Homo sapiens: one gene and its partner. The protein of the gene in region 2 interacts with the protein of the main gene of each other region in a pairwise test. Each region holds a gene or a part of one and is shown on either strand. Other genes may lie near its edges.

Evidence for each region.
Region 1: the proteins of H2BW1 (region 2) and PPP1R2B interact in binary tests that used the Homo sapiens proteins (3 or more experiments, as listed by UniProt).

What each region holds. Positions count from the first base shown.
Region 1 is NC_000005.10:156,848,759-156,853,251, reverse strand, and holds PPP1R2B (protein phosphatase inhibitor 2 family member B), read right to left. Parts: upstream 2,958-4,493; 5' UTR 2,690-2,957; coding exon 2,072-2,689; 3' UTR 724-2,071; downstream 1-723. UniProt on the Homo sapiens protein: Inhibitor of protein-phosphatase 1.
Region 2 is NC_000023.11:104,010,864-104,015,157, reverse strand, and holds H2BW1 (histone H2B type W-T), read left to right. Parts: upstream 1-1,449; 5' UTR 1,450-1,581; coding exon 1,582-1,988; intron 1,989-2,409; coding exon 2,410-2,446; 3' UTR 2,447-2,468; intron 2,469-3,694; 3' UTR 3,695-4,011; downstream 4,012-4,294. UniProt on the Homo sapiens protein: Atypical histone H2B that can form nucleosomes structurally and dynamically indistinguishable from those containing conventional H2B.

The DNA of each region.
Region 1 (4,493 bases), on a different chromosome or scaffold from region 2:
CTGCATGTGACAGCCTAAAACCCCACTGAGCATGCTGCTTGGCATGCCTTACTCCTCTGAAATCATCTACTTTCTAAAAACCAGAAAATGAGTTTGCTTGTGATTTAAATTTCAAAAAATAGTTTGTAGAAAACACAAAAAGAATCAACTGTTTAAAGTCTTATCCTTTTCTTCACTCTACAACAGCTACTTCTACAAAAAAGAGTATGTGGACACTTTCTAAGAACTCAGAAACAAGAAAACCAAAATCAGAGGTTGCATGAATATATGTGCACACATATGTACAGACTTAATCTCTACATCCCCCAAGACAGATTTAAACAGGTAATCCCAAAATTCTAAATTCAGAAACCAGAGATAAACAGTTTTGTTTCTAAATCAGTGGTATTACTAGATGAAATGTTTAGAATACTGCACTTATAGTTCAGCAGTACTTTGATTATATATCTCATTTAAAAAAATCAAAATAATAACCACATTCTTCTAACAGCAAAGAATTCTCCCACTTTTTATTTATTTTGAAATACTGATATTTCTATAAACCTGCAAGTGGAAGATAAGCTGTTCAATAAAAGCCTTATTTTATATATATAAATATATATTATACAGACATTATTTTAGAAGTCTGTTCATATAACAGATTATTTTGGTACTAACGAAAATTGTATACGATTCATCAATTGTATGGCTAGAAATGAAACCATAACCAAACCAAGACACACAGGGCTTTCCTGCACTTCGTTTAAGGAAAATATTCCACATAATTCTTACTGCGTTAGAGGAATAAAGTACATTTGTCATAGTATACATTATCATATTCCCTTAAAGCAGGGACTATTTAAAGTTTTTAAATTAAAAAATGTCCAGGCTTACTTCTGTCTGTACATTCAGGAATAATCATATCACTGGTTACATACAATTCTCATGCAAAGAAAACCCTCAAAAAACAAAAAAAAACCCTCGGTTGTTTTCTTAAGTCTAATTAAGCCAAACTAATAATAGCAATTTAATTAGCAATCTGTAAATCGAGAGGCATAGAAATTCAGCAGTTAAACTGTATTTCCTGCCTATAGTACTGCTGCTACTCAATCTATTTTCTTCATGTATTAGAAGAATTCATAGGCATTGATGGTCAAAATAAGAATTTCCACACAGCAGCAAATGACAGAAGAGTGACAGAAAGAGTTCCTAATGTCGTGACAATCTTAATGATCCTTTAAAAGGTAAAAGATTGTGTGTGTATGTGTGGAAAGGAGTAGGAAATAAAAGCAGGAGGTTAAGACAGGTATTTAAAGGGAATGGCGAGATAGCTACATTAGAATATTTATTTTTTAAAAAACTGCTCTGAAGTCTGCCCAGTGTACCAAAAACATTAAAAAACAAAAACAAACAAACCCCCTGCCAAAAAACAGAGCAGACATTGGTGAAAGTTTAACCTGATAATTTATTTGTGGGGAAAAAAGCTAGTTTTGATGAGAAAAAGTTCAGTCCTTTCCTTGTAAACACAAAGAAACTCAACAGGAATTTTAAAGGTAGTAGGTCAGAAAATGCAACAGTAACTCTTACAATTCTTTTCAATTAAACAGACAAATCAAGTTGAAGAGAAGTGTTAAAATACGATTCAGCTTGAATATTTATAAGTCTATATATCCTGTTGTTCAACTGGCTTTTGATTTTTAAAAAAACAAATCAACAAACTTTGTAAGAGCTACCACATTTCGAGTGATGAAAATAAATTAGTTCCCCCCCAAAGATATTGCTTAACTTCTAAAGCATAAAAAGCTCTATAATATCTTATACAAATTAACCAGTGTTCTTATGAAAGTAATGCAGTTTTGGACTGATGATATTACACTGTATTTGTGGTAAAGTACTAGGCATAAGAATATATATATCAATTAGGCATTTTCAGTCTAATTAGTCTCTAAGTTTATCATTTAATTCTTGGCAATATATAATAACTGGTATGCATTTTGGTACTTAAGTCATGAATTGTGGAGAACAAGAAGCAATGTATTATAGTCACAGGGTTTATATCTAACAAACAATTGCAGTGTTGAACAAATCTCTTCTATGAACTTCGTAATTTGTTTTGCTGTTGGTCACTTGGAGTAGATCCTTGATTTGATTCTTCCGTATTCATGCTTTCTCCATCTGCAGTCTCTAACATTTCTTCATCTTCATCATCATCATGTAGGTCTTTTGAAATTAATTGTCTGGCTAGTTTGATATTGAGTCCTTCATTGTAGTGAAGCTTCCTTCTCATTTCAAATTGTCGCTTTTTTTCTCGTTCTTCAGGTGAGAGGTCACTATCCTCCTCTCCACTGCTTTCTTGTTCCTGAATCCGGTACTTTGGCTCCAAGCCTTCAGCAGCAGCTAATTTCTTGGCTAGGATGTCTGGCGCCATGGCTTCAGTGGTCTCGGTGTCCCTACACGCATCTTCATCATCACCCATCATACTATGGTAAGGAGGGCTTGGTTCATCTATTTTCATTAAACCATAGCCTTTGTCTGCTGGATGATAGGTCGCCAAGATGTTAATTTCATCCCACTTCTGGGATTTTTTGCTCAGCTCCTCGTCGACACTCCTGCGGGGCTGTTCGGCCGACGCCACCATAGAGGAAGTCGTAGAGGTCTTGTTCTTCAAGATCCCCTTGATGGGCCGGTGGGAGGCCGTCGAGGCCGCCATTGCCGGGCGCTCCGGCTGTCGCCTCAGGGTCGCTGCTTGGCGTGGGGTCCGCGAAGAGAAGGGTCGGCACAGCAGAGACTCGCAGGCAGCCGCAGAGCCCGCTCAGGGCTAAAGCGGCCGCACCTGCTGCCTCGGAAACGGCTACTGGAGCGGTTGTCACAACGACCCCGACGCCAGAGCCAACGCCGAATGGGTGGCGGCTCCTCGCGCACCATTAGCCGCCGGCACTTGACCCGCGGCTCGCGGAGAGATGCCGGCCTAGAGCTCCGCGGGGAGTGGTGGGTGGGGGGTGGTGGGTGTGGTGGGGGTGGGGGGGGTGGAGCAAATCCGACGCCCTTTTTCATAGTTCTTTTGTACTGTGGACACCATGAGGCTTACAAAAAAAAACATCTTTATAGATGTAACAAGTTGTAAAGAGATGAAAACTTACAGAGCACGAAAACACAATAGAAACAAACTTTATCCCCCCACCACATTTTGACTTTATATTGTCTCAATTAATATATTTTTATATTGCCTAACTCTTGACGATTACTGTAGCTATTAAAGTTTTTGATTTGTCTTTTAGGCTTTATACTAGAGTTATAAGTGGGTTTCACACCACCTTTACAAGTATTAGGGCATTCTGGATTTTTCTGTGTACTTACAGTGGGTTTTATACCTCAAATGTTTTCTTTTTGCATGGTGGTGGCGGTGGTGATGGTGGTTTTTCTTATCGAAGAATTCCCGATGTGGCACGGTGGCTCATACCTGTAATCCCAGCACTTTGGGAGGCTGAGGTGGTCAGATCACTTGAGGTCAAGAGTTTGAGACCAGCCTGGCCAACATGGTGAAACCTCGTCTCTATTAAAATACAAAAATTAGCTAGGCATGGTGGTGCGTGTCTGTAATCTCAGCTACTTGGGAGGCTGAGGCAGGAGAATTACTTGAACCTGGAAGGTGGAGGTTGCAGTGAGCTGAGATCATGCCATTGCACTCCAACCTGGGTGACAGACTGAGTCTCTGTCTCAAAAGAAAAAAAAAAAAGAATTCCGTTTAGCATTTTTTATAGGATGGGTTTGGTGTTGAATTCTCTCTGCTTTTGTTCGTCTGAGAAAGACTTTATCCCTCCTGTTTGAATGATAGCTTTGCTGGATACAGTAGTCTTTGATGGCAGTTACTTTCTTTCAGCACTTTCAAAATGTCATCCTACTCCCTTCTGGCCTGTGTGGTTTCTGTTGAGAAGTTTGTTGCCAGATGAATTGGAGCTTCTTTATATGTCATTTGCTGCTTTTCTCTTGTTGCTTTTAGGAGTATCTCTTTGTCCTTGACTTGAGAATTTGATTATTATATCCTTTAAAGTACTCTTATTTGGGTTGAATCTGTTTGGTGTTCTCTGACCTTCCTGTACCTAGGTATTTTTCTTTCTCATGTTTTGGAGAGTTTTCTCTTATTATTTCTTTGAATAAGTTTTCTACCCCTTGTTTTTGCTCAGTTCCCACTTGAACATCCATAATTCTTGATTTTTGTCTTTTTAGGCAATTTTTCTCTATATTTTTGTTCCTTTCATTCTTTTTTCCTTTTTCTCTTGACTCCATATTTTTGTTATTGTTGTTGTTGTGTTTTGTTTTGTTTTTGGTGGAGACAGAGTCTCACTCTGTAACCCAGGGTGGAGTGTACTGGTGCAATCTTGGCTCACCACAACCTCCGCCTCCTGGGTTCAAGAGATTCCTGTGGCTTAGCCTCCTGAGTAACTGGGACTATAGGCATGCATCACCACACCTGGCTAATTTTTTGTATTTTTAGTAGAGATTGGGTTTTGCCA
Region 2 (4,294 bases):
AATTTTGCATCACGTAGATGATGGGAACATCCTGTGAGAGCAGCTCATGCCATAGTCACCACTGGCTCAGGCAATAAAGGCTTTCCAGCCCTTGAGGCACCACAAGCCATGGCTGAAAGTGTGGGGAGGTGACCCGGAAATGAACCAGTGAGAGCCTCCCTGGGAGGTTTAACCTTGCAGATTGTGAAGAAAAACGATGTGGCTCTTTCCCTGTTTTTTGTTTGCTTTTTTTTTTTTAAGAAAAATATCATGCTGACTTACTGATATGAATACAGAGATTGTTGTGGACAGGTCTCTTGTGCCTTGTACCAAACTACGAGAAGGATTGTCTTGCTAAACGTTTAAGTAGATTTATAAGATCATCATTTGTAAAGGGGACTGTTCAGAAATGGTGTACTAGAGTTCAGTCACAGAGCTTACCATATACGATCTTATCTAACAACAAAAATGAGCCTTTTTGTCCTTCTTAATCGTGAACCAATTTATTAGGAGTAGAATAAGTTGTTTGCTAAAGACATGACAGGAAATACACTTGAAAGCCTGACCTTTGAAATGACAGTTCATCGATGACCTTTATTTCTTCAGCATTTCTTAAGAATCTTTCTTGTTCAATTCCTGCAACTTAATGTTACTTAAATGCATTTAAGGAATGCCTTTGCGTATATTATCAGAGACTCTTGAAAGCTCTCTTTCTAACTTGAACATAATTTCCATTTCTGGAATCCCTTTCTCTCCCTCAGGGGCTTCCTAGGAGATTTAAGGCGATATTTTTTAACCCAATATCTCTTAAACTTATTAGCCATTTCCAGCTTTTGAGTTGTGATTTGTGGTTGTTGTTTTGCTTTCCTTTTTTTTTTTTTAATTATTTTTTTAAACCTGGTCGATGTCGAGTGTTGTCATATGTTTTTAATAAAAGTGCCTTTCTGTTTCTATTGTCTGCTTGGAGGCTGGGGTATGGCCATTTCTCATTCTCCTGATTCACGGAAGATGTTGATCAGTACTGAAGCCCGGAGCCAGACCGCTAGGTCCTTTGATGCCCAGGCGGCCATGTCAGGGAGTTCCTGCTCAAGCCAGGGTGGCTTAGCCCAGGATAACAGTAGCTTCTGAGATGGGTGACAATTGTTCCACACGTGGCCACAGTCATTCTTCCGGCATAATGGACTTGGGCTCAGGAGGTCTGTCTCTCCTCAGGGATCATGAGCTGAAATTGCTAAACTTTGGGAGTTTTCAGTGACACCCTTCAAAGTGCTCACAGTGTGGCATGGATCAGCTGAGAAGGGCGGATGCGCTTTTGCCCCGTGAGGCATCTATCTGTGTAACTTTCTCCGAGCTGGGCCACAAGGGGCGCTTAGGCCCGCAGACGCCCACTGTGATTGGTTGACGAGATGCCACGCAACGGGACCATCCAGTCACCTTCAACGCAGGTAGGTTTGCTGAGAGGCTCCCTGCGTGACACTTCATCCAATCAGACGTGAAGCTGGCCCGAGACGTGGAGCCATGCTGCGTACCGAAGTGCCCCGGCTTCCCCGGTCCACAACCGCCATTGTCTGGTCGTGCCATCTAATGGCCACTGCCTCCGCCATGGCTGGACCTTCCTCTGAGACGACCTCTGAGGAACAGCTGATCACCCAGGAGCCCAAAGAGGCCAACTCCACTACGTCCCAGAAGCAGAGCAAGCAGAGGAAGCGAGGGCGCCATGGGCCCCGCAGGTGCCACTCCAACTGCCGCGGGGACAGCTTCGCCACCTATTTCCGCCGGGTGCTGAAGCAGGTTCACCAGGGCCTCAGCCTTTCCCGGGAGGCCGTGAGTGTCATGGATTCTTTGGTTCATGACATATTGGACCGCATCGCCACCGAGGCTGGTCACCTGGCCCGCTCCACCAAGCGCCAGACCATCACTGCCTGGGAGACCCGGATGGCTGTGCGCCTGCTGCTGCCGGGGCAGATGGGCAAGCTCGCCGAGTCCGAAGGCACGAAGGCTGTCCTCAGGTACACCAGGAGCAAGTGCGCTCCCTCAGGAGCACCCGAGCACCACGGGAACCCAAAGGGTCTTTTCAGAGCCACTGAATGTGGCCTGAAAGACCAGTGGCTCGCCAAGGGGGACACCACCGGAGGCTGGGGTGGGTGGTGCCCTTCCGACTTGGGGGGCATGTGGCGTGTGGCATCCTGCAATGTTTCAAGCATTTTCCCCTCAGTACTAAACATTGTCAGCTCCAATATATCTGTAGTGCAGTTTGCTCCAAGGAAAAATAGTGGGTGTTTCCGTGATCGTGTTTCATTTCCTCAGTTTCGTAAACGGTCATTTTTGTTAGTTATGTTTCTAGGCTATCTATATGGTGATATTATTACTGCACTGATCTTTACCTTTTTCTGTCTCATTCTCCTGTGACTGGATGGTGGAATTTTCCAGAACTTCACTGTATGCCATACAGCAACAGAGAAAGTGAATACGCTGATACAAGAAGCAAGGTAACCCTCCTAAATGTTTTCAACACCGCTCCCATCACGAATCCATGTAAATAAGCAAATGAGGCCAAGTTACAGTGTACATACAGCTAAATAAAATTTTCAAGAATCCGTTCATTTTCCAGCTTCCTCGACTCTGAGATCACTATTGCAGTTCATTCTTTTTTTGCCATGACGATAATCTTTTCGTTTCTTTTTAAACAGAAACCTTCGTTACTTCCAGGTTTGTGTCAGTAGGCTTAGGGAGTGTCCACAGAAATGGCTCATGCCCTAGTGTTCAGTGGTGTAGCCAATGAGTGACTTGCAGTCTATGAGCAACAGTCATTGTCCCAGTGTGGGGGCAGTGAACCAGGCTGAACCCACAACAGCCTTGCACTGATATGCAGTCTGGTGTTTGGGGGGACAGGGTTGTGATTCTTTACCTGATGTTTTTGTTTTCAGTGTTTGTAATCATGGTCATTTAAGGATATGAATCCAGTGCTAGGAGTAGTATATGTTCCTTGCCCCTAGCATCAAGTTATGCAGAGGATGGTCAGCCTTTAGGAGAAGTCAGATAACGCTTATTTCCTCAAGAGATTTGCATATTAATATTCATGTTAATGTTAATATAGGTTAGCTTTCATTGTGCTTTCTTCTGGGTCCCAAGTCTTTGTATTTTTAGCACTTTTTCCTATGAGTGTATTGTTGAATTTCAGAGCAGCTGCTGACTTTCCCATTGCTTTTCTTTTCAGAGGATCTCCAGCCGCCCGAGTATGTGGACCAGAGAACATACTCTGGGATTGCGACCCATAGGAATTTATTGTATTGTGCCTTGAAGCTCAATATGTGGCCATTTTTGTCAAATGTTTCCCGTGAATTTTGAAACATCTCATAAACAACCTTTCTCCTTCATATGTAGAAACCAGTAAAGGGTGACACTCTCAGTCAAACCATGAAACAAAAGCTGGGAAAATGACAAAAATCAAAATTTTCTTGAGCCCATCAGAAGTGGGAAAGAACCACACCAGATGGCCCAACACATAGCCACATAGATTATTCCACCTTTGGCAGAGGACCGTTTGGTCAAGAGGGAAATGGGGGCATGGCAGGATAGTAGCCAGAGCTTCCCTGAGTAGTGCATTTGGGCAGCGTGGGCAGTTCACCTCCAGAGCTCCACTTGGGCTCCGTAGAGAAAGGATGTAGGGCCAAGAAGTCCCCTCATTGGGATTTGCTACTTTCTGTTTTTGCAGAATATTAGAAAAATGTCATGAAAATAGTTGAAGAGAAATGCTCACTGCACAAGGAGACCAAGAAAAACCCCCCACGAAATCAGCCACAACTAAATCGCTCTGGACGGTGCCGCCAGGTGACCCTACATGTCCGGAGCAACACTTTGAAAACCAAAGACGCTTGGCAGAACCCTGTTCCTTTCCAGAGACAGAGCTGTGTACCTTGTCTAAAACACCGCATCTCACTCAGTGACTTATTTCTCATTATGCTAATTGTTTTCGCTTTAAAGCGCCAGTCTTTCTGTCAAATGGGACATACAAATAAATTTCTAAAATTATCCTTGCATGTCTACTGGGTAATTTGACATGTCTTTTTCAGAAACCGTATCCATTGGGATATTTTACCCTGGAGTGTGTGTTTTCCATTTGTAAATTCAGAAATGAATGAGGAGCATTAGTAAAACAGCGTTAACAATGAACTCTGATTGGGCTGTGGGGAGTGAAGAGTGAGAGTTCAAGGGGACTGATGCCGGTGAGTTATAGGAAGAAAGAGAAAAAGGCTGCTTTGATGTGAAGATGGGCAGAGGAGCTCACACATCTGCTATAGCATTTCAGTGGGTG